Regions from separate parts of the Homo sapiens genome. Here regions 1, 3 and 4 are each reported to be linked to region 2. Evidence: microRNA targets listed by miRTarBase, many of them from high-throughput screens and not tested one by one. Region 2 holds a microRNA gene; each other region holds the end of a gene's coding sequence.

What was found. Region 2 holds the annotated microRNA hsa-miR-1307-3p (ACUCGGCGUGGCGUCGGUCGUG, at 4,625-4,646, shown strand). A microRNA usually pairs through its seed, bases 2 to 8, with sites in the 3' UTR of a target mRNA and lowers its output. Matches are read on the target gene's strand: a 7mer-m8 pairs with bases 2 to 8, a 7mer-A1 pairs with bases 2 to 7 and ends in A, and an 8mer does both.
Region 1: miRTarBase lists TNRC18 as a target of hsa-miR-1307-3p. The part of its 3' UTR that is shown has no 7-base or 8-base seed match.
Region 3: miRTarBase lists ZNF841 as a target of hsa-miR-1307-3p. Seed matches in the 3' UTR shown: 7mer-A1 at 5,721-5,727.
Region 4: miRTarBase lists FAM120AOS as a target of hsa-miR-1307-3p. Seed matches in the 3' UTR shown: 7mer-A1 at 3,485-3,491 and 7mer-A1 at 2,911-2,917.

The regions. Positions count from the first base shown.
Region 1 is chr7:5,302,012-5,309,129 of GRCh38, forward strand. It overlaps TNRC18 (trinucleotide repeat containing 18), which reads right to left. Exons shown (of 30, transcript NM_001080495.3): 29 at 6,864-6,938; 30 at 4,800-6,301. The coding sequence ends at 6,095. SLC29A4 (solute carrier family 29 member 4) reads left to right here. Exons shown (of 11, transcript NM_153247.4): 11 at 786-4,901. The coding sequence ends at 928. Among named protein-coding and RNA genes, the nearest start is that of SLC29A4, 23 kb to the left of the region's middle.
Region 2 is chr10:103,391,829-103,398,946 of GRCh38, reverse strand. It overlaps MIR1307 (microRNA 1307), which reads left to right and starts at 4,546; the gene lies at 4,546-4,694. ATP5MK (ATP synthase membrane subunit k) reads left to right here and starts at 2,472. Exons shown (of 5, transcript NM_001206427.2): 1 at 2,472-2,538; 2 at 2,915-3,201; 3 at 6,481-6,576; 4 at 6,664-6,756. The coding sequence starts at 6,490. The coding sequence ends at 6,753. It overlaps PDCD11 (programmed cell death 11), which reads right to left and starts at 2,321. Exons shown (of 36, transcript NM_014976.2): 1 at 2,217-2,321; 2 at 419-531. The coding sequence starts at 520. RefSeq lists enhancers at 835-1,335, 1,336-1,837, 2,495-2,744, 2,895-2,984, 2,377-3,209.
Region 3 is chr19:52,058,979-52,066,096 of GRCh38, forward strand. ZNF841 (zinc finger protein 841) reads right to left here. Exons shown (of 7, transcript NM_001136499.2): 7 at 5,487-7,118. The coding sequence ends at 6,129. It also overlaps the pseudogene LOC100419835. Among named protein-coding and RNA genes, the nearest start is that of ZNF432, 14 kb to the left of the region's middle. RefSeq lists an enhancer at 6,036-7,118.
Region 4 is chr9:93,441,196-93,448,313 of GRCh38, forward strand. FAM120AOS (family with sequence similarity 120 member A opposite strand) reads right to left here. Exons shown (of 3, transcript NM_198841.4): 3 at 2,137-6,502. The coding sequence ends at 6,416. Among named protein-coding and RNA genes, the nearest start is that of FAM120A, 6.9 kb to the right of the region's middle.

The DNA of each region.
Region 1 (7,118 bases), not on the chromosome of region 2:
ACGATCTCAGCTCACTGCAACCTCTGCCTCGCAGGTTCAAGCAATTCTCATGCCTCAGCCTCCTGAGTAGCTGGGATTATGGATGCCCCCCACCATACCTGGCGAATGTTTGTATTTTTAGTAGAGGTGAGATTTCACCATCTTGGCCAGGCTGGTCTCGAACTCCTAACCTCAGGTGATCTGCCTGCCTCAGCCTCCCAAAGTGCTGGGATTATAGGTGTCAGCCACCATACCTGGCTGAGACTGGAGATTAAAATGGGGAGGGTTAGGGCCAGGCTCACTGGCTCAGGACGGTGTTTTGGGAGGCCAAGGTAGGACTATCACTTGGGACCAGCCTGGGCAGTATAGCAAGACGGAGTCTCTACAAAAAAATTTTTTTAGGTTAGCCAGGCACGGTGGTGCATGCCTGTGGTCCCAGGTACTCGGGAGGCTGAAGTGGGAGGATCGCGTGAGCCCAGGAGGTCAAGGCTGCAGGAAGCTATGGTTGTACCACTGCACTCCGGTCTGGGCAACAGAGCAAGACCTTGTCTTTAAATTTTAAAAATGGGGGCTTGGGGGACTCAGAGAAGGCAGGCAAGGCCTGGAGTGCATAGCAGATGGCCTCGGGAAGAAGGAATGAGGAAGGACAGGATCCGGAGAGGGTGCTCCCAGGAGGAGCGATGGGGCAGCGGGTCCTGGAGGGGCGGCACGGTTCAGGCGGGTGTCACCGCACCTCACACCCGAGCAGCCGTGGCCACCAGGTGGCCGCCCTGGCCCTGCTCCCCTCAGGCTGGTGTTGTCCACAGGGAACACCATGACCGTGTCCTACATGTCAGGGCTGACGCTGGGGTCCGCCGTGGCCTACTGCACCTACAGCCTCACCCGCGACGCTCACGGCAGCTGCCTGCACGCCTCCACCGCCAATGGTTCCATCCTCGCAGGCCTCTGAGCCAGCCCCGCCCACTGCCAGGGACGCCGAGGGCCTGACCAGGGGCCCCGAGGCCTGAGGGCCCCTCCCCTGTCCCCACCTCAGTGCCTGCGGGGCCCTGAGCCTCCCCCTGTGCCAGCAGCCCCACTCCCTCAGGGTCCAGCCATGCCCCACCCTGGACTGAAGTTCTGCAAAGTCCTCCGAGGACCGGAACACGTTTCTGCGACCCGGGGCTCTGGCCAGCACTGTGTTCTGCGTTTGGTCTCATACCTGCGTCTACCTTCCATCTGTGTCCAGCGGCCCCGGCTCCAGCCCAGCCAGCACTCTGCAGGGTCACACGCACCGTGTCCCCACCCAGGACAGCAGACACCCGCCAGAGTGTGCGCGCCCAGTGACTGCACCCCGGCCCTCATCACCCACCGGCACTGATCGGGGCACCGCCTGGCCCAGCCTCCACCAGGGACCCCTCCTCATGAACTCTGGAGCCCTGAGAGGAGAGGGGCAGCCCCCCACCTTGTCACCCTCAGGGCTTCCCCTTCTGTCCTCATTCTTAGAGACTGCTTCTCCCAAACATAACGCGTTAGCCATGAAGGAGTCGGAGCCCTGGGTCCGAATGGACCCGCCTGCGGTCTGCATCAGCCTCTGGGAAACCACAGCAGTGATGCCAGCTGGGCACGTCAGGACCTCCCCACACACCCACACGATGCCACAGGTCAGGGGGCTGTGCCTGACTAGGGAGCCCTCCCATTGCCTTCCTGGCCCGGGATAGAAGAGGGGAGGTAAGTCTGGGGGCTACGAAGCCGGGCCCCCACACCCTGGCTGAAGTCAGCTTGACCTAGGTCTTGACCCTCATCCAGCAAGGGACTCGACAGACCCAAGGGTCCCTGGAACGTAGGGAGGGGCTGGGGGTCAGTCCAGCCCGGGCCTCCCAGAACACCAGGCCCGTGTGGGTGGCACCCTGAGGTCAGGGGATCCTAAGGGTGTCCTTCCAGAGACGGTGTTTCCAGGGGGAGGACCGCCCCCGCTTCCAGATCCCCGGCCCCGGCTGTGACTGCCCTGTTTCACCCCTGCTGTGTCCCATCCCCCGTCTGTCCACTAACTGTACCGCACCGGCCATTAAAAGATGAAGGCAGACCGCTGCACCGCCGCCTGCAAGCAGAGTTTGTGCGTGGACGGGGGCTGGGACTGCCATCTCGGGATACCGGTGGAACTCGGGCTGCCCCGCATAAGCCGGTCCTCAGTCTTCCCATCTGTGAGGTGGGCCGGGTGGATCAGGGAGCAGGAGGGTGTCCTCACACTGGGTAGGCTTGGTTTGTGGGCAGCGCTGGGTAGTGGGGTGAGAGCTGGGAGCACTTAGGGTTTGTCGCTCACCTTGACCGCCCGCCCCCCCCACCCCTTCGTGAGGATCAGGGAGGATGGCCACATGCAGCCCATTTGAAGGGGAAACAAAGTGGGCGGGGCTTGGCCCCTGCCCCTCAGGGACTGCACTGCATCCTAGGAGTCAGAGCCTCCTGGCTTCGAGCCTCATCCCTTTTGCTGATTTGTGCAATTTGGACAAAATCCTGCACTGTTCTGTGCCTCATTTCTTTCTTTTTTTATTTTTTTTTTGAGACTGAGTCTTGCTCTTGTCACCCAGGCTGGAGTGCAGTGGCACGATCTTGGCTCACTGCAATCTCTGCCTTCCAGGTTCAAGCGATTCTCCTGCCTCAGCCTCTCAAGTAGCTGGGATTACAGGTACGCACCACCACACCTGGCTAATTTGTCTTGTGGAGACCGGGTTTCACCATGTTGGCCATGCTGGTCTCGAACTCCTGATCTCAAGTGATCCATCTGTCTCATCCTCCCAAAGTGTTGGGATTACAGGTGTGAGCCACTGCACCCGTCCTGTGCCTCATTTTTGTTTTTTCTTTCTTTACAAGACAGGCTCTCGCTCTGTCACTGAGGCTGGAGTGCAGTGGTGCCATCATAGCTCACTGCAGCCTCCACCTCCTGGGCTCCAGTGATCCTCCCACCTCAGCCTCCCAAATAGCTGTGAATACAGGCGCGTGCCACCACGTCTGGCCAGATTCTTTTATTTTGTGTAGAGATGGGGTCTTGCTGTTGCCCAGACTGGTCTCAAAGTCTGGGCCTCAAGTGTTCCCCCTGCCTTGGCCTCCCAAAGTGCCAGGATTACAGGTATGAGTCACTGCGCCTGGCCTGTTCTGTCCTTAGCTTCCCCAAGGAATGGGGCTGGTCCAGGTTTTGATGTGGGTCCCGTAAAGGAGGGCACGAGGGCCACCTATGCTCTGGCAGGCATCCTCCCTGGGGCCCAGGTGGGCGGCCACTTGGGCCAAGACTGCGCCAGGTGACACCAGAGTGTTTCCCAGAGCCCATGCCGGGCCCTTCCCTTGCCCGAGGCCGGCTGGCTGCCCTCCATGGGTTACCCTCTTTGCAAAGCCCCGAATGTCCTCTGCAGGCCACCCACACTAACCAGGTCAGTCACTGGGCAGCCAGACCCCCACCTATAGCTTCCCTAGGCCCCAGTGCAGAGATGCCGTCCACCCCCATCTAGGTGAGGGCTTGGGGCCACTCTTAGCATTAGTATCATTTTCTTCTAGTATCATTTTGTGGTAGGCATGGCTGGAAATGTGCAGCTTTGCTTTTTTTTTTTTTTTTTTTGGAGGAGTTTCGCTTTTGTTGCCCAGGCTGGAGTGCAATGGCTCGATTTCAGCTCACTGCAACCTCTGCCTGCCGGGTTCAAGCGATTCTCCTGCCTCAGCCTCCCGAGTAGCTGGGATTACAGGCATGTGCCACCATGCCCGGCTAATTTTGTGCTTTTAGTAGAGACGAGGTTTCTCCATGTTGGTCAGGCTGGTCTTGAACTCCCGACCTCAGGTGATCCACCTGCCTCAGCCTCCCAAAGTGCTGGGATTACAGGCATGAGCCACCATGCCTGGCACTGGTTTTTTGAGATGGAATCTCGTTATGTCACCCCAGCTGGAGGGCAGTGGCACGATCTCAGCTCACTGTAACCTTTGCCGTGGGTTCAAGCGATTCTCCTGCCTCAGCCTCCCAAGTAGCTGGGATTACAGGCACGCTCCACCACACCCGGCTAATTTTTTTGTATTTTTAGTAGAGATGGGGTTTCACCATATTGGCCAGGCTGGTCTTGAACTCCTGACCTCAAGTGATCCGCCTCCCTTGGCCTCCCAAAGTGCTGGGATTACAGGCGTGAGCCACCGTGCCCATCCAACTTAACTTTTAATTTTTTCTCATGTAAATTTGTTCAATTTCTTTTTTTTTTTTTTTTTTTTTTTTTGAGACAATCTCTGTCACCCCCAGGCCAGAGTGCAGTGGTGCGATCTCAACTCACTGCAACCTCCACCCGCCGGGTCCCTGTGATTTTCCCACCTCAGCCTCCCGAGTAGCTGGGATTACAGGTGTGGGCCACCACACCCGGCTAATTTTTGTATTTTTAGTAGAGACGGGGTTTCACCACATTGCTCAGGCTGGTCTGAAACTCCTGGCCTGAAGTGATCCTCCCGCCTCGGCCTCCTAAAGTGCTGGGATTACAGGCACGCTCTACCACACCTGGCTAATTTTTTTTTGTATTTTTAGTAGAGATGGGGTTTCACCATATTGGCCAGGCTGGTCTCGAACTCCTGACTTCAAGTGATCCGCCTGCCTTGGCCTCCCAAAGTGCTGGCATTACAGGCGTGAGCCACTGTGCCCAGCCGATGAGCTCATTTAGATGGCTGCATGGGGTCACCGCCCCTGCACGCGTGGCACCCAACTTCTTCCAGTCGAATCCTGCTTCTTGGTGCCCTGATATGGCAGAATGCCCCCAGACACCACCCCTACTCCAGCCCCTGAAATAAACCACTCCAGACAATTTTATTTTTCCAATTAAATCTTTTCTTTTTTTTTATGAAAAAAGATCACACAGAATTTGCCAACAAACAAAATTCCAAAAGAAACATAAAAAAAAAAACCAATAATTCCCCCAAAAAACAAACCCAAAGTCTGGCTTTTCCTTCCCTCAAGATTGTCTGGTTGAGGCCTTGGTTTCCCTTGAAGGCTTGGGGCCTGGTTAAGTGCTTTCTGGGGCCCAAGCAGGGACCCTGGGCTTGGGCCGGCTCCTGCCTCTCCCTCTTCTCTCCCTAACAAACACTTCTCTATCCTGGGGGGTGAGTACAGTACACTTGGTGGGGTGGGCGGGGGGTGTGCTGGGGACTGGGAGGCCGGTGAAGCCGGTGCTAGACACTATAATCTAACAGGAAATAAAAAATAATATTCTGCACGTCAGAATGTTTTTTTTTATAATTTCATAGCTATTTTTCACAGTTTTAAAAAGTTTATATATATATTTATATATATTTATCTTTATATATATAATTAAAAAGTTGACTCCATTTAAAGGCTTATGATACAGGGGCGGGGCGAGTCTCTTGGTACAATAAAACTGTACAGGTTAAGAAGTGCCACCTCCCTCCTGGGTGGGGAGGGGCCAGGCGTGGCCGGGCGACAGTTTCAGCACCATTGGGGTTTTCTGTAGTGTGAGGGTTTGGACCAGGGTGGGCCTGTGCCGGGCCCTCTCCACCTGGTGCCTTTGACAGACACTCCGGGCTGCAACCCCACCCGGCTCTGTTCCCCAAGTCTAGGCCATCCTGAGAGGGTGGGGGCAGGGCCCCTGGCACAGTCAGGTAGGCCAGCTGGCATCGGGCTGCCCTGTCCCATGCACGGTGGGAGGCCTTGGGGTGGGCTCCATGCTAAGGGTGCTTGGGAAGCCCAGAGTGAGCGTCAGTTTGGTTCCTTAGAAGCGCCCCTCCCCACCGAATCCCCAGTCTGCATGGACCTGGGGGCACCCGGGCCCCCACGCAGCAGCAGCCTGGAGGGCCGGCCTGGCCAAGTGCTTGCAACGTGCTGGGCAGGAAGGGCCGGTCCGGCCATACCCTGATAGCTAAGAGGGGCCCCTGTCCTGGGGGCACTGAGGGGTTGGAAGGTGGGGCTGGAGGCATGTGCACATGCGTGCACACACGTGCATGCACACACACTCACCCGGGCATCCACGTGCACACCTGGCCCCATGCACACGCCTGCAGGAGCGCTCGCATGCACACAACGCACGTGGTCTCCGCGCCATGGCAGTGATGGAGATGGGTCCCTGGCCGCCCTCGGGGCACAGGTGGCCCGCAGGGCCCGGCGGGCTCAGCAGAGCACGGGCACGCCGTCCGTGGAGAAGATCATGCCCGTGGTGGGCTCGTAGGTGCCCGCGAGGTAGTACAGGCCCTCGCTGTCCTGGTACTTCTTGGTCTTCAGCATCTGCTCATACTGCTCCAGGCCCACCACCAGGCACTTGTGCGACACCGTCTGCACGTCATTTTCGTCCACATGCGAGGACTGGTATAGCGCGCGCTGCGGGCACGCGGGGATATCAGGATGGCAGGTGGGGGGCACAGAGGCCGAGGGAGCCCCAGGGAGCCACAGGGACAGAGACAGAAGCAGAGGGAGCCCCAGGGACTGAGACAGAGACCAAGTCAGAGACAGAGGCTGAGTAAGAGACAGACCAACAAAAGAGAGACAGAGACCGAGAGATGGAGAGCAAATGAGAGACAAGGATAGACAGACCAAGAGATCCAAAGACGCAGAGAGACAGAGACCGAGATCGAGAGAGACCCAGAGAGACACAGAGACTGAAAGATAGAGGTTGGGAGAGACCCAGAGAGAGTCAGAGGGCAAGAATGGCCAGAGACTCAGAGACAGACACTGGGAGAGCAGAGAAGACCCAGAGACAGACGCACAGACCAGAGAGACAGAGAACAGGAGCCAGGCACTGAGAGTGGCAGGGACAGGAGGTCAGAGGCTGAGGGAGACCATGGGGGACAGAGCAGCAGATGCTGAGCCGGGCCCTGTCTGAGCTGCCCGGAAGGAAGCAGCCATCCCCAACCCGCCCACCACCACCACCACCACCACCTACCTCCATGAAGTCCTTCCTCTGGCTGGAGACCCGCAGGGCCGCCGGGAGGCTGCGGCTGGACTTCTGGTCCCAGTGCTGTGTGGGGGAGAGAGGAGGGGCTTGGGTGAGCCCGGGGGCTGCTGCACCCGACCCCAGGCCCCAGGACAGGGCTGACCCACTGGGCAGGGCTGCTGATGCTCCAGCACCCAGAACGCCTCGCCCTCAGGTCTGCCCTACACCGCCTAGGACTGGGGGCCGCAGCCGGGCCGCAGGCTC
Region 2 (7,118 bases):
CACCTTCTTGGTTCAAGCAATTCTCATGCCTCAGCCTCCCAAGTAGCTAGGACTACAGGTATACTACCATGCCCAGCTAGTTTTGGTATTAGTATAGACGGGGTTTCACCATGTTGGCCAGGCTGCTCTTGAATTCCTAGCCTCAAGTGATCCGCCTGCCTCGGCTTCCCAAACTGCTGGGATTACAGGCATGAGCCACTACGCCCAGCTAATAACAGTACTTTAATACTAAATGCCAAGCTTCAAAAGATACAGCCTTGTGGTGGTATGGCCTCTCTAAATGAGTTAAATTTATAGAAGTAGACTTCAATGCAAAAAAAATCTGGAAAAATAACACATTCTCAAATAAGGCTCATTTTTCACAAGACACTACAGTAAAAGTTTCCAGTGAGTGTCACCAAACAAGCATACTACTTACATCAAATAAGTTGTCTTGTTCAACTGACTGCTGGAAAGCTTTCTCTGGTTTGTGGATCTTTCTTGTACCTCCTCGGGGGAAGCTTTCTTCCAGGTTTGCCATGTTTGGGTCTCCTAAAAACAATGCAAAGGATAATGGTGACATGTTGTCTTGGTAGCAGATTTCAGAAAGGTGTTATCAACGGGCAAGAGACAGAACGTTCCAGCAATATGCTAGACAACATTCAGGACTACAACATAGATGGTTTAGATGTCAGGCCCGGAATAATCCATACTTCATCTTTCCAAAGGTCTCTGCTTCAAAACCACAAGTCCACCCACCTTCTTCCAGAAAAAGAAGTTATAGATTCAATGTAGCACATACTCACTAAGAAGCTACAGTTAAGTCAGAGATACACTGTAGCTCTACAGATGAATATATAATCCTCTGCCTTCAAAGAACATGCACACTTTTTGGAAGATAAAACAATTATGCAAGTAACTTAAAATGCAAATCAGATTATAAATGATCACAAAGATGTAGGAAGGGATAAGGCAATGTAGGAAGGGATAAGTAAAGGAGGCAAGCTTCATAAAGAAGATCTTTTTTAGCTTAAGGGTAAAAGATGAACAGAAGCTTGACAGGTAGAAAGGGAATGTGAGAAAAGACATGGATGGGAAAAGCCTATTATTTCAATAAACACCAGCAATTTCCCTATCAAACAACTGCTCAAAGGCTTGCTGTTGTCTCTGAGGAATTATTCAACTAGACCACTGGGAGATTAAAGCATAAAAATTGAAGTTAAATTTTAAAGAAGGCCGGGCACCATGGCTCACACCTGTAATGCCAGCACTTCGGGAGCCCGAGGCGCGTGGATCATCTGAGGTCAGGAGTTCGAGACCAGCATAGTCAACATGGCGAAACCCCGTCTCTACCAAAAACGCAAAAATTAGCCGGGCGTGGTGGCCTGCGCCTAGTCCCAGCTACTAGGCAGGCTGAAGCGTGAGAATTGCTTGAGGCCGGGAGGCGGAGGTTGCAGTGAGCTGAGATCATGCCGCCGCACTCCAACCTGGGAGACAAAGTGAGACTCTGTCTCAAAAAAATTAAAGGAGAAGTTGGGCTTTTTTGTGGAAGACCTTGAATTAGATATGGGTAGTTTGCTTTGGCAAGTCAGAGACTTAAGCAGGGAAAGCGAGAGAACAGTAAGCAAGAAAAATATACTGCAGGCTATAGATTGGACATGAAGAGAGACAGTATTGAAGGCAAGTAAATTCGGTAGAAGGATTCAAATGCACTGTTTCCTGTTATCTCAGTGACAGAAAAAAAAAAAAAAAAAAAGGATTCAAATGCAGTACAGCAGAGAAACCATGAGAACCAGAACTGGGTATAAGTGAAAACAGAAGACAGGAGAGGTTAGTTCTGACAGACACTTGGTAATAAGACTCTACAAGGGCTTTAGACTAAAGAAGTGATGACCGGGTGGGGCCAAGGATATGGAATCAGGGATGGGTATATGATTCATAGAAACAGGAAAGTTTGGGGGGTCTAGTTTGCTGATAATTTCACCCTTAATTTCCTTTCAAGCAAGGGGAAACTGAGGCTCTGAAAAGTAAGGCGATCCAGGGGCACAGAAGATACTTAGGCTACTTTCCGAACACAAAGCCTGGGGTTACAGGGGCTGCTACAACAGAGCCGGCTTCGAAGCGGGGCTAAGGTGGCCGAACCACACTCATCTAGCGTGTGCCTGGCAGGGAACCAGGCCTGGGACAGACCTGACAGCCATGAGGTTTCCTCCTTTTTCGCCTCTGCCTTTACTCACCAGCGCCACGGCGTCTGCACCCAGCTACCACTAACCTCGCGCCGCGGTACTCACACACGCGGAGACCAGGATACCCACAGTCCAGTGCAATTCTTCCGGAAGTGTGGGCGGGCTCAACACCCTACTTCCGTTGCTGTGTTGCGGAGGTGACCTAGAGACAGGAATCGGAAGGGCGGGATTTGGAGCCATAGCCAATCGTCGCATTAGGCCGAATCGCGGGGGCCGGCTAAACGCGTGCGGGGGAGGTGGCTTCTTCCGGCCGGGCCGAGAGGTGGTTACATTCGTTGAAGGACACCAGCTGCGGAATTTGCGGCTTTGGCAGGTGGGTGAAGAGGGGAGTCCGGGCTTGGACCTGGCGCCTGCACGTTGCAGGACCGCCCGCCGTTTCTGGCCGAGGAGCAACTCGAGTTCTTAGCTTTGGAGGAGAGAAACGGTGGGGAATGGGAAAGGAGCTAGAAAAAACGAGGGGCGCAAGGGGGCGGCCAGCGGGTGAGAAGCCTCGAGGTGAGGCGGATAGGTGCGCCCAAGGGCTCCCACAGTTTCCGAAGACCCTTAGATTGCATTCGCCAGTGGAGAAAAATGAGGCCCTCCGCGAAGCGTCCCTCGAGGTCACCCAGTGACGTAATATTGGACGAGGACTAGGGCTTCTGATCCCCATCACCGGCCGAATTAACCTCTTTTCTTCTGTATGTCCATAGCTGTTTGTTCCCACCGAGCTGTGCTTTAGGAAGCTGGCCAGCCGGGCCTCCTTTAGGTGCGCTGCAGCCTTTTTCAAAGCGAGTGAATGTGGCCCGGCCCCTACAGTTCGCCAGGCCCGCTGTAAAAGGGTTAGATTTCAGTCTATAGACGATCAGTGGGAAGGCCTTTCCTAGGAGGTAACCAGAACAGAGAGCTGTAAACTCCGTGAATGCAAGAGGCTGCTTCTGTTACCTGAGTGGTTCTCACTCATCTTTGCCTTCCTTACCTCGTGATCTCACCATTCCAGGTAGGTGTTAAGTTAGAAAGGAAAATAGCAATATCGAGGAACAGAGAAAGTAACAAGAGCTACTGGTCACTTTGGACCTTTAATAAAGTGCCCATCTCACAGGTGGAGAGAGGCACGGAAGGATTAGTTACATTTAAGAGCAGTTAGTGGCCGGGCGCGGTGGCTCACGCCTGTAATCCCAGCACTTTGGGAGGCCGAGGCGGGTAGATCACCTGAGGTCCAGAGTTCGAGACCAGCCTGAGTAGTATGGTGAAACCCCGTCCCTACCAACAATACAAAAATTAGCCGGGCGTGGTGGCGCGCGCCTGTAGTTCCAGCTACTCGGGAGGCTGAGGCAGGAGAACCGCTTGACCCCGGGAAGCGGAGATTGCAGTGAGCTGAGATCGCGCCACTGCACTCCAGCCTGGACGACAGAGCGAGACCTTGTCTCAAGAAGGGCAGTTAGCAACTTAATTAAAACATACCACCGTTTAACAACATTAAATCACAACTAGGAGTCTTACAAAGGGCACTGTAAACACAAGGGTTCCTTTATCTTTGCCCTAAAGTAACCTGCACCGTGCTGAAGAGTGCAGAACCAAATTTTTCGACCTTACTCCATTATCTCACCAGCAACAATCCCGTTCCCCATTTGGCCCTCCATTTGAGCCTCTCAAGAGTCCTCCTCCTTTAAGACCCAGACTAACTTGAGTGATTGATTTCAGTTCTTGAACCATGCACTTCCCTGCAATCAGAATTAGTCTTCTGTGGGATATCACAAAACATCAGCCTTCCTCCCATATTGTGTGTAAATTAAAGGGAAATTTAAAGCGCTGTAGTATTGTTGGGCATATCCTCCTAAAAAGTTTAGTTAGATGTAATGTAGTGGAGGTTTTCGTTAATGGTCAAAGTGAAGCCCTTATTTTCTGTAGCGTTTCTCCTAAAAACCTACTTCAAACCCTAAGAAGTGAATCCAAAAATGTATCATGAAATGAATGGAGCTGGTGGGGGGGCGGGGGGCGGGGGGAAGTATGTCTTTAGTAAGTTTAGTAAAGTGGAACAGTTGATAGCTACATTATAAAGTTGCTTTTATCGCTTCTGTTGGCTAAGATCAAGTGTATAAAGTTATTTTTAATGGAGATTTTCCTACTTGGGCTAGACTGGCCAAGGTCTCTGAAGAGGCCTAAGGAAGTTTGGATTTCCTTCATTGCTCCAAGAACCTTCTTGAAACTTGAAAATTAAGGTCATTTTTCTCAAATTTTCATTGCCAATTCTTTACACAAGAATGCCTCTGAAAGCCTTTGAATGGGGGAGTTCCAGTTTCCATAGTAATGACTCCCTGACAGATATCTCCCTCTTCCATTTCATCAAGACCCAGCTGAGTCACTGTCACTGCCTACCAATCTCGACCGGACCTCGACCGGCTCGTCTGTGTTGCCAATCGACTCGGCGTGGCGTCGGTCGTGGTAGATAGGCGGTCATGCATACGAATTTTCAGCTCTTGTTCTGGTGACCTTTTGAATACGTCTTGTCTATAAAAGAAATTCATGCCTTTGTAAAATACACAGGTACTATAGATTAAGCTGCCTTTGCTATATATTCTTCCAGAGTTTTTTTTAATACACTTACTATTTTTCTATTTCATTTACTGCAGTATTTTTCAAACTTTAGCATGCTTTAGAATTATCTAGAAGCCTTATTAAAATAGATTCCTGGACCCAGAGTTTCTGATTCAATAGGTAGGGCCTAAGAATTTGCACTAACAAGTTTCCAGTGATGCTAATGCTGCTGGTCTAGGGACAAGACCCAGAACCATTGACGTGCTTTATAAAATCCAGAAATAAGATTTTTTCTTACAAAATTGAACGTTACTTGGGACATCTTCCCATGTCAGTACACAAAGATCTGTGCCTGTTGTGTGTCGTTTAATGGAAACCATCATTTTTTAATCAGTCTTCTATAGATGGACTTTTAAGATTTTCATAAACAGTATTTCATTGACCATCTTTGAACCACACAATGTGTTTCCACTTTGTAATATTTCAATAAGGGTAAATTCCTGGAGAAAAACACCAGCTAGATGAAAGGGTATACTCATTTTATAATTCGATAAGATACTGCCAACTTGCACTTTCTGAAGGTTGTACCAGTTTATTTATTTTTTATTTATTTATTTTTTTTTTTTTTGAGACGGCGTCTCGCTCTGTCGCCCAGGCTGGAGTGCAGTGGCGCAATCTAGGCTCACTGCAAGCTCCGCCTCCCAGGTTCATGCCATTCTCCTGCCTCAGCCTCCCGAGTAGCTGGGACTACAGGCGCCCACCACCACGCCCGGCTAATTTTTTGTATTTTTAGTAGAGACAGGGTTTCACCGTGTTAGCCAGGATGGTCTCGATCTCCTGACCTCGCATCCACCCGCCTTGGCCTCCCAAAGTGCTGGGATTACAGGCATGAGCCACCGTGCCAGGCTGGTTTTACCAGTTTATACTCCAAGCAACAGAGAGAGAATTCTTAGTTTTCTCACATACTTAATACTACTACTTACCATAATTTTATTTTTGCTTGTTTGATGATTAAATATTGATCTCATTTTACATTTCTTTGACTAATAGGTTTTATGTTTTTTTTGGTTTTTGGCTTTTTTTCTTAATATTTTCCCTTCCCTGAGATGACTTAAATATTTCCCCATGTTTTCTTCCAGGACTTTTTGGTTTCACTATTTACATTTAAATCTTTTATCTATTTTGGTGGTGGTGCAAGGATTCCAGCTTCCTTACTACCACCAGTAGCTATTATTAACTCCATTTAATAAATTATCCCTTCTCCCTTCTCCCATGGAGGTCCTAAATTACTTATAACAAGAAAAATTGTATAAGTAGGGGTTGTAATTGAGCTGTTTAGTTGATGGTCACCCGTTGAATGTTTGAAAAATACCAGCTCCAATTTTTGAGTAGCCTTAAAATGGATTAATTCAATGGACTGTGGTGTGATGGAGCCAGGAATGAAAATATTAAGCTGTATTGGGTCAGAGAATGAACTTAGCAGGGGCTATTGTGTGATTTGATGTATTCTGAGGTGTTCATGAAATAGCGATCAAGGTAAAATCCTACTTCCAAAAGCTTTTCTTTCAGGAAGGCTTTTTCCACCATCTTTGCTACTACTGTGTTGGGTGAGATATAGATAAAAATTTACAGTATTTATATGCAGTGACCTTGAGTTTTTAGACTAAAACAAGACAAAATTTATTTACTTTTAAATTACATCCAAACCAATTTAATGTTGCTTTCTTTCTTTTTTTAAAAGATTGAAATCATGGCAGGTCCAGAAAGTGATGCGCAATACCAGTTCACTGGTATTAAAAAATATTTCAACTCTTATACTCTCACAGGTAGAATGAACGTAAGTATTGATAACTTTAAGCAGTTATATTTTAAAATAATATAGATGGAACAACAAGTCTTGTTTACTTTTTTCTTTCTTTCTCAGTGTGTACTGGCCACATATGGAAGCATTGCATTGATTGTCTTATATTTCAAGTTAAGGTCCAAAAAAACTCCAGCTGTGAAAGCAACATAAATGGTAAGAAGTTGACATTTAAACCTTTATAATTTAGCCATTTTGATGTTAGGATTTTTCCCTAACATTTAGTATAAAAATAAACCATTGTCATTTTGCAAAATTTATAGCATACAAGAAAAAAAAATACAGAGGCCTAGTATAGTGGCTCATACCTGTAATCCCAGCACTTTGGCAGGCCAAGGCGGGCAGATGACTTGAGCCCAGGAGTTCAAGACCAGCCTGGGCAACATGATGAAACCCCATCTCTACCAAAAAACAAAAATTAGCCAGGGTGGGAGAACTGCTTAAGTCCAGGAGGCGAAGGTTGCAGTGAGCCGAGATCACGCCACTGCATTCCAGCTTGGGCGAAAGAGCAAAATCGT
Region 3 (7,118 bases), not on the chromosome of region 2:
CATTTGTTCCCTTGTACTTCAGTGAAAAACTTGGAGGATCCATAAATCAAGGTGGTATTTTCAGATTTGTGTGGCAAAAAATTTGTACAGAGAGGCTGGGAGCGGTGGCTCACACCTGTAATCCCAGCACTTTGGGAGGCCGAGGTGGGCAGAGCACGAAGAGATCGAGACCATCCTGGCTAACATGGTGAAACCCTGTCTCTACTAAAAATACAAAAAAAATTAGCCAGGCGTGGTGGTGGGCGCCTATAGTCCCAGCGACTTGGGAGGCTGAGGCAGGAGAATGGCAAGAACCCGAGAGGTGGAGCTTGAAGTGAGCTGAGATCGCGCCGCTGCACTCCAGCCTGGGCGACAGAGCGAGACTCTGTCTAAAAAAAAAAAAAAAAAAAAAAATATATATATATATATATATACACACACACACACACACACAGAGAAATGACAGATGCAAAGCATGTGTTCTATCAATATGTAGAAGGTCCCTTACATTTTAAGTTCAGTGAAATAATTAGAATGATACAAGATACTGAACTGAAATTGTACAATGTGGAAGCAAAAGCTCTGTTACTAATGTGCAAGTATATCAACAGGATTTTTAAAACACAACATGCTAATTATACCTTAAAATATATTTCTCCCAGTCTGGGCAACATGACGAAACCTCATCTCTACAAAAAATACAAAAATTAGCCAGGCATGGTGGCGTGAGCCTGTGATCCTGAGGCAGGAGAACATGGTCTGGAGGCAGGAAACCTAAGGCTGTTTCACGCTAACGTCCTTAAGCTAAATTGATGGGAAAACCCTAACTTTCCACACCTAAGTAACAAAAGGACCAGAGACTACTCCCTTTGCAAACCTCTACCTTTTCTGCCTGGCAGATGGGAAATTAAAAGTACCTCTGATTGGTTGCTTTTTGCAACCAATCAGATATTTGCGTAGGAGTGTGACTTTTGTAACTTTACTTCAGCCTCTGATTGGTTGACTGACTGCAGGCCACCATTTCATTTACATTAGGTCAGCACCAAGCAGCCAACGGGAAACCTCTAGTAGTCATTTGGACCCAAGAAGATTCTGTATCTGGGCCACTGCTTGGGCCTGTTCCCACACTGTGGAGTGTACTTTCATTTTCAATAAATTCCTGTTTTCATTCTTTTGATGCTGCATTCTTTCATTGCTTTGCTGGGTGTTTCTTCCAAGTCTTTGTTCAAAATGCCAAGAACCTAAACAACTTGCAGTCAAGACCCTCTACTGGTAACATATTCTGGTGAGCTAGCCAGGAGAGAAGGTAGGCCCAAAGTTTGGGATTTCTTTTTCTCCTTTCCCCTTTTACATACAGGGAAATCTTCCTCTCTCCATCTTTTCCTTTCCAACTGAGGACCCTCAGTGGACAGCACCTAAGCACAAAGACACTTGCAAGTTTCTGGCCAGGGCCATTCTCTGGTGAAACTGGAAGGTTTCCGTGTGGAAGTGCCTAACTGCCACCGCTTGGTTAAGGTGAGGAACCTGAGTCCTTTTCCTCGTTTTTGTTTTTCTGAGTCCTATTCCTTTTTTTTTTTTTCTGAGTTATTTTCCTTTTCTCCTTTTTCAGTCTTTCAGCGGCCGTTTCCTAGTAGCTCGTTGGTAATTGAGGGGAACTGACTGGGGCCACTCTCTGGTATCCTCTGAAGGCCAAGGAGTGAACAGGGATGGCTGCCCTGCCCAGAAAGGGAAAAGACTCATTTCTGTCCTTTTCAGTTATAATCCCTGATCCCTATGTGTGATGCAGTTAGCAGCAGCAGCTCGTCCAGGGCAAACTCACAGGTTTCAGGTGACTTATGCTGCTTTTATTTATGCTAAATTCTTCCCTTCTCCCACCCAACTGGCAAAGGACAGAAAACCCACCTAGCTATGCACAAAAGGTTACACAAGTCAGAGGGTCCGGGCATGTGGTCTGTGTGGTGCATGGTGGTGGAGGGAATTCATGAAAAGGAATTTATTATTGCCTAAGTTGAGAGCGTTAAAGGGTTGTTTTAAGTGAGATAGAAAAACTTTAAGTCAGGTCCTCAGTGATGGAGGGAACCATTCCAAAGTGGTGCCAGCACCCATCTAAGGTCAGAGATGTCTGACAGACTAAGTTGGGGCCCTAAAGGGGGGATGCCCCAGGTAAAATTTGGGTCACCTAATGAGCCCTCCACTTTTCAAAGTCCTCTTCTCTTTTCCAAACCACTATGGGCAACTCTCCACCTATTCCACCTGATTCCACACTTGGCTACATCCTCAACCATGGAAATCAATTTGACCCTGACACTCTAAAGATAAAATGTAAAATTTTTTTTGCACTATTGTCTGCCCCCATTATGAACTGCCCAGCCTGGAACAATGGGCAGTCTTGGTAGCCTTAATTATGACACCATCCTGCCATTAGACCTATTTTGCAAGAGGCAGGGCAAATGGTCAGAAATCCCATATGCACAGGATTTTATGACCTTATACCAAAACCTAGCAATCTGTCAAACTCCCAGAACCCACCCCCACCACCAAAGGAAAGTTCTAAGGTAGAATTAGATATTATAGATGATCCCCCCCACTCTTACTTTTTCTTTTTTGAGACAGAGTTTTGCTCTCATCGCCCAGGCTGGAGTGCAATGGCTTGATCTCCGCTCACTGCAACCTCCACCTCCCAGGTTCAAGCAATTCTCCTGCCTCAGCCTCCCAGGTGGCTGGGATTACAGGCACACACCACCATGCCCATCTAATTTTGTATTTTTAGTAGAGACGGGGTTTCTCCATGTTGGTCAGGCTGGTCTCGAACTCCCGACCTCAGGTGATCTGCCCAGCTCGGCCTCCCAAAGTGCTGGGATTACAGGCGTGAGCCACCGTGCCAAACCAGATGACCCCCTTTTACAAGAGCCACTTGTCTCTAAGGGTGAAGAGCGACCATCCCTATAGCCCCCTTACCAAGTGCTCCTGAGGCTAAAACCAGGAGCAAACACTGGGGACCCTACTAAGTCCCCCAAACACTCAGTGGGGAACACCATATTCTACTCTCCCTCCAGCCTTGCTACCCCGTAGGGAAGCAGCAGGAGCCGAATGGCCAGTCCTATTGCAGGTCCCCTTCTCTATAACTGATATACAGCAATGTAAGGAAAAGCTAGGAAGCTACTCTAAAAATCCTAGGAAATTTGCAGAAGGGTTCCAAAAGTTGACCTTATTACTATTGCACTCCAGCCTGGGCAACAGGGTGGTGACATGATAATAATGTCAATTTACAAAGATGATTTGAGAATCTTGTCTGTATGCACTTAAAACCAGCTGCAAAACATGTGAAGCAACAAGTGACAGAAGTGAAAAGAATGTACAAATCTAGGTGGAGCACAGATTTTTAGGTTAGTGAAACATACTCCGTATGTTTCCCATATCCCAAAGCAACACTGTATTTGTCAAAGGACACTCTGAACACAACAAGCTCAGTGACTTACATTGTAAATTTACATCATTCTCCACCATATTCCATGCTGCTTAACTCACACAGTACAGTGACCTTAATCTTCCAGAAAACATGGATATGAAGGAACCACACCTAATGAAGCAGGCCCTCTCACCTTACTGATTTATTCCCAGAGACCACAATGAAAGATGTGTAGGAAAGGCAAGACTTCATACTTTAGGATGAAGGTCACAAATAGTCAACTAGCCTTTTTAAGAAATGTCAAAGTGAATACAATTATTTTATATACTGAATTGGCCATTTCCACACACGCTCTTGATCCTTTGATGTACATATTACCTGGGGTTTTAACAAATTTTGTCTTGTGGTTATTTTACCGTATGTATCATTCCAGGTCAATCCTGGATGGAGAAGCAGACTTAGTTATCCATAGTATGATTTACCTAACATGGAATCTGTTGAGAAATTTTTTTTTTTTTTTTTTTTTTGAGACGGAGTCTTGCTCTGTCGCCCAGGCTGGAGTGCAGTGGTGCAATCTCGGCTCACTGCAAGCTCAGCCTCCCGGGTTCAAACAATTCTCATGCCTCAGCCTCCTAAGTAGCTGGGACTGCAGGCACGTGCCACCACGCCTGGCTAATTATTTGTATTTTTAGTAGAGACGGGGTTTCACCGTGTTAGCCAGGATGGTCTCGATTTCCTGACCTCGTGATCTGCCTGCCTCGGCCTCCCAAAGTGCTGGGATTACAGGCGTGAGCCACCGCATCTGGCTGAGAAATGGTTTAAAATTTTACCACGTTAATTACATTTGCAAGGTTTCTATCCAGTATGAATAATTTGGTAAAGCCTGAAGACACACTACTGATTAAAGGTCCTTCCATGTTAAGCACACTGATATGACTTTTTTCCTGTATAAATTCTCTCAAACTCCAAAAACATGAACATTTGATTTTTTTATTTTTTTGAGACAGAGTCTCACTCTTGTCACCCAGGCTGGAGTACAATGGCGCAATCTCGGCTTACAGCAACCTCCACATCCTGGATTCAAGTGATTCTTCTGCCTCAGCCTCCCAAGTAGCGGGATTACAGGTGCCCACCACTGCCCAGCTAATTTTTGTATTTTTTAGTAGAGATGGGGTTTCACCATGCTGGCCAGGCCGGTCTCAAACTCCTGACATCAGATGATCCACCCACCTCGGCCTCCCAAAGTGCTGGGATTACAGGTGTGAGCCACCATACCCAGCCCATTTGATTTTTAAAAAGGCTTACCACATTCGTTACATTTGTAAGACTGTTCTCCAGTATGAATACTCTGATGTTTCCATTTGGATGTTCGGGTAAAAAGTCTTAGCACACACATTACATTTGTCAAAGATGTATATTCTGAGGTCTAGTGAGTTCAGACACCTCGGGGAAGCCTCTAGCACATACATTTATACGATTTCTTTCCAATATAAACTCTCAAGTAGTGACTGAACTCTGGTGAAGCTTCTGCCACCCTCATTTCATTTGTAAAGCATATCTGCACTTTGAGTTATAGATCCACAAGTTTTGACCTTTAAGTAGTATTCTTGCCACATATACTACACTTCTGTGATTTCTCTCCAGGATGTATATTCTTATGCCTAGTGAACACTTGCTTAAAACTTAGCTATATTCTGGCCGGGCGCAGTGGCTCACGCCTGTAATCCCAGCACTTTGGGAGGCCGAGGCGGGTGGATCATGAGGTCAGGAGATCGAGACCATCCTGGCTAACAAGGTGAAACCCCGTCTCTACTAAAAATACAAAAAAAATTAGCCGGGCGCGGTGGCGAGCGCCTGTAGTCCCAGCTACTCGGGAGGCTGAGGCAGGAGAATGGCGTGAACCCAGGAAGCAGAGCTTGCAGTGAGCCGAGATTGCGCCACTGCAGTCCGCAGTCCCGCCTGGGCGACAGAGCGAGACTCCGTCTCCAAAAAAAAAAAAAAAAAAAAAAAAAAAAAAAAAAAACTTAGCTATATTCACTCCATGTGTAAATATATTAGGCCATAATTGCATGGCTAGACAGAAATACCTGAGGCTAGGTAATGTATAAAGAGGTTTAATTGACTCACAATTTTGCAGGCTTTATAGGAAACATGGCGCTGACGTCTGTTCACCCTCTCGGGAAACCTGAGGAAGGTTAAAATGATGGTGGGAGGTGAAGGGCATGTCACATGGCCAGAAGAACAAACAAGAGGGAGGTGCCATTCACTTTCGTGCGTGCGTGTGCGTGATGGAGTCTCACTCTGTCACCCAGGCTAGAGTGCAGTGGCGCGATCTCGGCTCACTGCAACCTCCGCCTCCAGGGTTCAAGCAATTCTCCTGACTCAGCCTCTCGAGTAGCTGGTACTACCAGTACCCGCCACGAAGCCCAGCTAATTTTTGTATTTTTGGCAGAAACAGGGTTTCACCATGTTGGCCAGGCTGCTCTTGAACTCCTGACCTCAAGTGATCCGCCCACCTCAGCCTCCCAAAGTGCTGGGATTACAGGCATGAGCCAGACCTCATGAGAACTATCACAAGGACAGCAACAAGGGGATGGTACTAAAACTTTCTTGAGAAAGCCACCCCCATCATCCAATCACCTCCCACTAGGCTCCACCTCCAATACTGGAGATTACTACAATTCCACATGAGACTTCAAAGGGAAAGGACAAATATACAAGCTATATGAGTAAGTATAAATTATTTGGGGATCCCAGAGGTTAGGACAACATCTAACGGCCTTTCCACATTGAGTTTAGTTGTAAGGTTCTCTCCAGCATGTTTTATCTGATGTTTAGTGAGGCCTGAGCGACTAATGTAAGATTTGCCACACTCATTACATTTATAAGGTTTTTCACTAGAATGAATTCGTTGGTGTTTAGTGAGGCAAGACCGCCGCCCAAACGCCTTGCCACATTCCATACATTTGTATGGCTTCTCTCCAGTATGGTTTCTCTGATGGTAAACCAAGTTTGACCTTTCGATAAAAGCTTTACCACATTCATTACATTTATAAGGTTTCTCTCCAGTATGCATCATCTGATGATTAAGCAGAATTGAACGTACTCTAAAGGCTTTGCCACACTCATTACATTTGTAAGGTTTCTCTCCAGTATGAATACTCCAATGACGTGCGAGGCCTGAGCGATAACGGAAGACCTTGCCACATTCATTACATTTGTAAGGTTTCTCTCCAGTATGAATTCTCCGATGCCTTGCCAGGGTTGTAGTGGAGTTAAAGACTTTCCCACATTCAATACATTTGTATGGCATCTCTCCAGTATGTCTTCTCTGATGGTACACCAGACTTGTTTTATGACTAAAAGTTCTACCACATTCACTACATTTGTGTGGTTTCTCCCCAGTAGGATTTCTGTGATATCTTGCAAGTTTTGAACTTTGGATAAAAGCCTCACCAAATTCATTACAGTGGTAAGGGTTCTCTCCAGTATGAATTACCAGATGTTTAGTGAGGCTTGAACGCTGAGTATAGGCTTTGCCACAATCATTACATTTATAAGGTTTCTCTCCGGTATGAATTTTCCGATGACGTGCTAGGCATGAGTAGTAACTGAAGACCTTGCCGCATTCGTTACACTGGAAAGGTTTCTCTCCGGTATGACTTCGCCTATGAATTGAAAGGTTTCCACTGTCAATGAAGACCTTGCCACACACATTACATTTGTAAGG
Region 4 (7,118 bases), not on the chromosome of region 2:
ACCACCACCACAGAAGGGGAGACAGTTTGTCATCTGAACTTAACTGAATTGGTTGTCTGCTTACAATCAGTCTTCTCCAGGGATTTTAACAAGTTGCAGACTCTTGGGACTTGGTATTCAAAACATCCAGAATATGATCCAACATTACTAGATGCGCAAGCAACCAGGTAAGTATGACCTATTCACAAGGAAAAAGACAACCAACACATGTCATTCCAAAAATGACTCAGATCTTGGATCATCAGACAACAACTTAAAACAACTTTTATAACTGTGCTCTTAAGATGAAAACAAAGGGCCAGGCGCAGTGGCTCATGTCTGTAATCCCATCACCTTGGGAGGCCAAGGCGGGTGGACCACCTGAGGTTGAGCGTTCGAGACCAGTCTGGCCAACATGGTGAAACCCTGTCTCTACTAAAAATACACAAAAATTAGCCGGGCGTGGTGATGCACATCTGTAATCTCAGCTACTCGGGAGGTTGAGGCAGGAGAATTGCTTGAACCTGGGAGGCGGAGGTTGCAGTGTGCAAAGATCGCAGTCTGGGTGACAGAGTGAGACTCTGCCTAAAAAAAAAGAAAGAAAGAAGTTATTGATGGAGACCCAGAAGCTATGAAAATTAAGAATTCTAGAACTGAAAAAATTATATTTCTGAAGTTAAAAAATGTAATGGATGGACTTACTAGCAGAATGGAAATAACAAAAGAAAGAGTCAGTGAATTGAAGACAGATCAGTAGAAATTAACCAGAGGACACTGAGAAAATGGATTAAACAGAATGAATAGAACTTCAGGATCCTGGGAGACAACACCAGAAAATCACGTATTTTTTGACACTAGAGTCTCAGAGGGAAAAGAGAAATTGGTGCAGACACAAAAAAAGTTTTTAGAAATAACTGCTGAAAACTTCTTAAATTTGACAAACAATATAAATACACATTCAAGAAACTCAGCAAAATCCAAAGAAGATGCTCAGCATATCATAATCGAACTGCTGAAAACCAAAGATTGAAAGAATCCTGAAAGTAGCCAGAAAAAAACCCAACACATTCGGTATAGGGAAGAACAATTTGAAATACGGGTTATCTCAGACATATAATAAAAAATCATGTAGGCCAGGATGCAGTGGAACAATACCTTTAAAGCACTCATAGGAAAGAATCATCCATCCAAAATTCTATACCCAGTGCCAATATTCTTCAGGAATATGGACTTCCTGAAGAATCCTAAAATATGTCCACAAATTAATTGGAGATCCTCTCTTCAGAAGCTGGGGCCTAATTCCCCTCCCCTTGAGTGTGAGCCAGAATTAGGACTGACTTTTAATGAATAGACTATATCAGAAGTGACATTTCATGATTCTGAAATTTTAGTTATTATGGTGAACACCAGTCCCCTGACAACATGGTTCAAATTTGAGTTACCAGAATATATTAACTGTAATTGCATGAAGTTCAAACTTTCTGCTAGCTCCCCAGTCCACAAATCACTACATAATAACACAGGTACATCATGATCAGTGACCAATCATGCCTCTTCTTTCCAAAACCTACGGGTGATTGGTCACTGTGCATCTGTGTTCATTTCACGCACAGACAGCAAAGTGTGAATTGTGTGGCCTCCTTGTCTTCCAGTGATAAACCCACATGGCATTTTTACACAAATGGATATTCAAAAGAGAAAACTGACAAATAAAGATAGAAATGCAGCAAAGAAACTCAAACTGAAAACACTGAACGTGAATGCAAATCAAACATAAATGGGGTCACTGAAGAAACAGACTATGGGGATGCTGGCACTGCTGCCGAGAAGGTGAATTCCTCAAATAAATGAAGAAAGCGGTTGTGATGAAAAGGATGAAGATGTTCCAGAGGAAGGAACGTCAGCAAAAACCTTCACGTTAAAGGGACTTGGAGATATTTCATGACATTGAAAGCAAAAAGGATAAAATATTGGAAGCTGATCCAAACTTAGAAGGGGCATGACAAGTTTTTGAACACAGAAAAGGTGCTCCCTCTATATCATAAGGTACATGACTTTTGAAGAAGGCAAGCACTGTTTAAATGTCTGTTGATGGTTTTTTTAGGAAGACATCAAGCACTTTAATTCCCTGTGTTGCTAATGTTTTAAATTACAGTGTACAAAAATATTTACTTTATTGTTTCCTTATACATTTCTAACAGTACAAGATTATCAATGTTTTGACAATTTTCAAAAGACAGGAAAAAAATCACAATTTTACCCATTAATGATTATGAACAGCACATGGCAGTTTCAGGTTGGAAGGTCATTTTTACAGTTCTGAACTGCTGTGCAGTGAGGACTGTCTGTTTTATGTTGGGAGACTCTGTGTTCTGCTAAAATTCCCTGAAGAATGTTTCTTTTTTTTCTGTTTTGTCAGGCAATCAGCCTCGTTAGCCTTAGTCTGCAGGTCCTGCGTTGCCTTCTGTTTGGTGGTGGTGGTCCGAGTGTCAGTTCAGAGTGTGGCTGTGTTGCCTGGGCTCTGTCTCTTGTATGTGCAGCTCTGGGCTGAGCACGGAATTCAGCTCATGTACAGAATTAGAGAATCCTCTTTTCAGGTCTTTGCTCTTCAGGATTTCCCCCCAGACTCCCTGGCACCCAGGGGGCCCCTTTTCCTCATCCTCTGGCTTAGAAAGATGGGCTTTCTCTCTGATGATTACCTGCCTACACTGCCTGCTCATTTTGCCAAAAGGAACGCCCCTCAGGCAGAAAGCAGAGAGAGAAAAAAAGATGGATTATTTCCACATTCTTCAGACCATAGGGTCATTTTTTCCTGCTCCTCTGGCTGGAAAGACAGGTTTTCTCTCAGGGGAATTTTTTTGTTTGTTTTTGTTTTTGTTTTTTGAGACGGAGTTTTGCTCTTGCTGTCCAGGCTGGAGTGCAATGGCGCGATCTCGGCTCACTGCAACCTCCACCTCCCAGGTTCAAGCGATTCTCCTGCCTCAGCCTCCCGAGTAGCTGGAATTATAGGCATGCACCACCACGCCCAGCTAATTTTGTGTTTTTAGTAGAGACAGGGTTTCTCCATGTTGGTCAGGCTGGTCTTGAACTCCTGACTTCAGGTGATCCACCCGTCTTGGCCTCCCAAAGTGCTGGGATGACAGGCGTGAGCCACCGTGTCCAGCCTGACTAGGGTCATCTTTAGGTCAGGACTGAGAGAGAAAAAGTTTAAAAAAGGAAAAAAGCAAGGGATTATAGCCACACTTTCTAGCTTGCCGGGCCCCCATTTACCAGAATGTTTTAAGAAAGTTCCAGACTGTTTTCCCATCAGCTGTGTATGAGGGTTCCAGTTCTTCCACATCCTTCTCAGCAAACAAGTTAACCATATTTGGCACAGGATTTCTAGACCTGTAGGTTACGGAAATGTCACAGTATGTTTTGAGGCCAGTAAGGAGTTCTGCTTTTTTTTTTTTTTCCTGAGACGGAGTTTCGCTCTTGTTGCCCAGGCTGGAGTGCAATGGTGCGATCTCGGCTCACCGCAACCTCCGCCTCCCAGGTTCAAGGGATTCTTCTGCCTCAGCCTCCCTAGTAGCTGGGATTACAGGCATGTGCCACCACGCCTAGCTGATTTTGTATTTTTAGTAGAGACAGGGTTTCTCCATGTTTGTCAGGCTGGTCTTGAACTCCCGACCTCAGGTGATCCACCCGCCTCGGCCTCCCAAAGTGCTGGGATTACAGGAATGAGCCACTGCACCCGGCCAGTTCTGCATTTCTTAAGAGAATCTTTGTGAGAAGATGTAGATATTGGCTTCATAATAATAAAGTGAATTTGTGGTATTAAATAAATGGAAAAAAAGACAAACGGTACAAATTAAAAGTTCTTGAGATGTTTGGGCTGACCATGAAGGGATCCATTATCTGAAGAGTGGCTTAAGATTTAGAAGGCATAGCTCTACAGTCTCTTTGTCTTCTAAGGGCAGGGCATCTTCTATCTTCTAGGACAGGGTACAGTAAGTCTTACCAAACATGTAAGACATGTTATTTGGGGATATTCAGCATTCCTTTTCCCTTCCTAAAGGTACTCAGGTTTCTTTCTCAGAAATTGTATATATTCATCCCTGAAAGGTCTGAGAAAAAATAAAAAAAAATTGTGTATAGTTTTGGTGAGATCGTCAATCCAGGAACCTGTTTCCCCATATTAAAGTCAAAGGAACTATACTGTTTTCACTGCCAGGCTGGGGACTCTTAGTACCTAAGTTTGGTCCATTCTACTCTTTTTCATGACTTTGAATCTTGAGCAAATGACTACAGTAAGAGTGGGGTTCATTCATGTCATCAACAGCATCCCAGCTGTATTGTTAAAAGTACCTGTCATTCTTAGTTCCCACCCAGTCTTAATCCTGGTTCTCCAACTTTCATAAAAATCGTTGTTTTTTTTTTTTTTTTTTTTTTTTGAGACAAGGCCTCACTCTGTTGCCCAGGCTGGAGTGCAAGTGGTGTAATCTGGGCTCACTCCAACCTCCACCACCTTGGCTCAAGTAGTCTTCCCACCTCAGCCTCCTGAGAAGATGGGACTACAGGTGCACACCTCACCTGGCTAATTTTTGGATTTTTTGTAGACAATGGGTTTCATCATGTTGCCTCAAGAAAAATAACATCATGGTAATACTAAGTCTTTTATCAGTGACATGTAACTGATTTTAAAATATTATATAGTGCTTCCTAGTTTAACCAAACTGGAGGCATGTTTTATATGATGGGCTGATGTCTCATGAATAACTGTGCCAAAATCCTCACTTCTGAGTGCACTGATGCAGTAGATGGATGTCTCAGATCCCTCAGCTCCCAGATTGGGCCAACTCTCCTTATACCACCACACCTGGGACCTGGGAGGAATGGGGAAGGGGACTTTATAGGGCAGAGCTTTCCCAGACTCTTGTTCCACCCTAAGGATAAAGTATTACAGTAACTTTCTTCCTGCCTTCCAGAGGCACTTTCATTCTTCCTGGAGCTCTCGTCAACCCTGACCTCTTCCTTTGTCAGCAAGGTCAAACGCCTGAGCCACAAGTCTTAGCTGTTTCCAGAAGGGTGATTGTGTGCTCCCACCTATATCTGAGGTCCTAGACTCCTCAGAGGAAGTCAGCTTCATGTGATCTAGGTTACTCAAGCCTGGGGCTAGTGTTTTCATATTCTGGTATGAGAGACTTGCTTCCTCTGGAAAGATCTTTATGGTTTACACAAATGTAACAGACCACTTAACAATAGCTAGTCTCTAAAATGTACATCTTAAAATGGCTTTATACTTACGGGAATTCCTAATTAAAAAAAAAACTCACTTGATTTATATCACATTGTAAAATATAGTTTACTTCAAAAGATGATCCTGAAGATCCCATCACAGAGTGTTTAAGGGATGATTATAAACTTTTAGCCCTTAAGAGAGAATATATATACTCAACTGAGTACTGTCTTTCAAAGCAGTCCCTGTCAGTTTGTCCATTGATTCCATAGCAGCTCTCACTGCCCACCCTGCTTGAGAAGCCTCTTGGAGTTGCCTAGAGAGTCTATAGCACTCATCTGAAGGCCCTCCATGAGAACAACTCTTCTCTTCCACATAGATATTTTTGCATCAGCCCAAAGCTATTTGGACACAAGTTTGGTGAACACGGTAAGAAAAAAACAAACCAAGCAACAAAAACAAAAAGCAGGCAGTGCTGTGTTAGACTGAAAGTAAAAGATAAAAACTCTAAGAACCTATGAAGCGCCAGGGCAGTGCTGGTTGCTTTCACCCATATGGTCTCCTTTGGTGTTCTGCTGGTGCTTATGAAGCAGTATCCCTACTGACAATGACCCTAGCTTAAGAGGGCTGAGAACTGCTGAAAGTGAAGCTGTTTATAAATGGTACAGTCAGGACCGACAGACACATGGGTGTGGTATGACTGCAAAGTACCTGTGGAATTCAGATGGGATTACCATCCCCACTATAAAGGGCAATATGATCTGTTGCAGGAGGGTTTATAGGGTACTTAGTTACACAGGTCACACTGATCCCCTTTTCCTCTTTTTTTCTATGCAAGTATCTATTTGTCTATATGTCTGTCTACCTTGGTAGGTTGGGCTCCTTGAAGAAGGGTTATGTTTTCTTCATCTCCATATCCCCAGTAGCTGGCCAATGCCCAGTATACACCAGGGGCTCAGTCGCTGTTTGTCTTATTTTCTTGTTGACTCTACTCTGACTTAGGACATATCACTTTCCTCTCTTGACCTTCACATTCAGATGTGTTAATAAAAGTGGATAAAGACCACTCTAGCTTTAAAACACCCTCCAATATAGAGAGAACTCTGAAACCAGAAGCAGAAGCTGAGGAATGGTGAATAGAGCATTTTCCCTCACACGATGGGTATCAGGGTGGTTTCTTGTCCTTTCAATGCCTCTGCAGAACTTGACCCTAGTTTTTCAAATTGGACTCAAGAATGATCTTAGTGTTGGTGGTTTTGTGGTTTTCTTTGAGACTTTGTTATTGACAGAACAGCTTCTGGAAATCTGAAAAGAAAAAAAAAAAGGTAGTTTATATATTAGTTTGGAATATGAAATGTATTTTGTCATGGTCTCCAGAGTCCGAATATTGATCTCTGTGGAGCTCTCCTACCCTCTGCTACTGCTGATAACTCATAGTACTGGAGAGATAGCAGAGCCTGAAGACCAAAAAACTCAACTGCCGATACACGGCTGCAGTGTGGTCAGTTACTGATCTACCATTTATGAAGCAGGCCTACAGATGTGTGTGTTCTTCTGGGTAATTTAAATTGACAATTAATTAACAGGGCTGGTGCTAGGTAAACATTATAGGTTAGAATCCCTAGTGTGGATTAATTTGCTCTCTTCCATGATCGCAGACTCCCTGCTTAGCTCCAGTCTGCTGGTCTCCCAACATCTGCTAATGATTACATGGGCAGCATTAAGGTCTCTTATTACCTTGTTTGAAAAACTGGAAACTCATCTGTTATTGTTGGTGGTTAGATACCTCACCTAAGTAAAATATTAATTAATGATATTAGGCTGGGCGCGGTAGCTCATGCCTGTAATCCCTGCACTTTGGGAGGCAGAGGCAAGTGGATCACTTGAAGTCAGGAGTTCGAGACTGGCCTGGCCAACATGG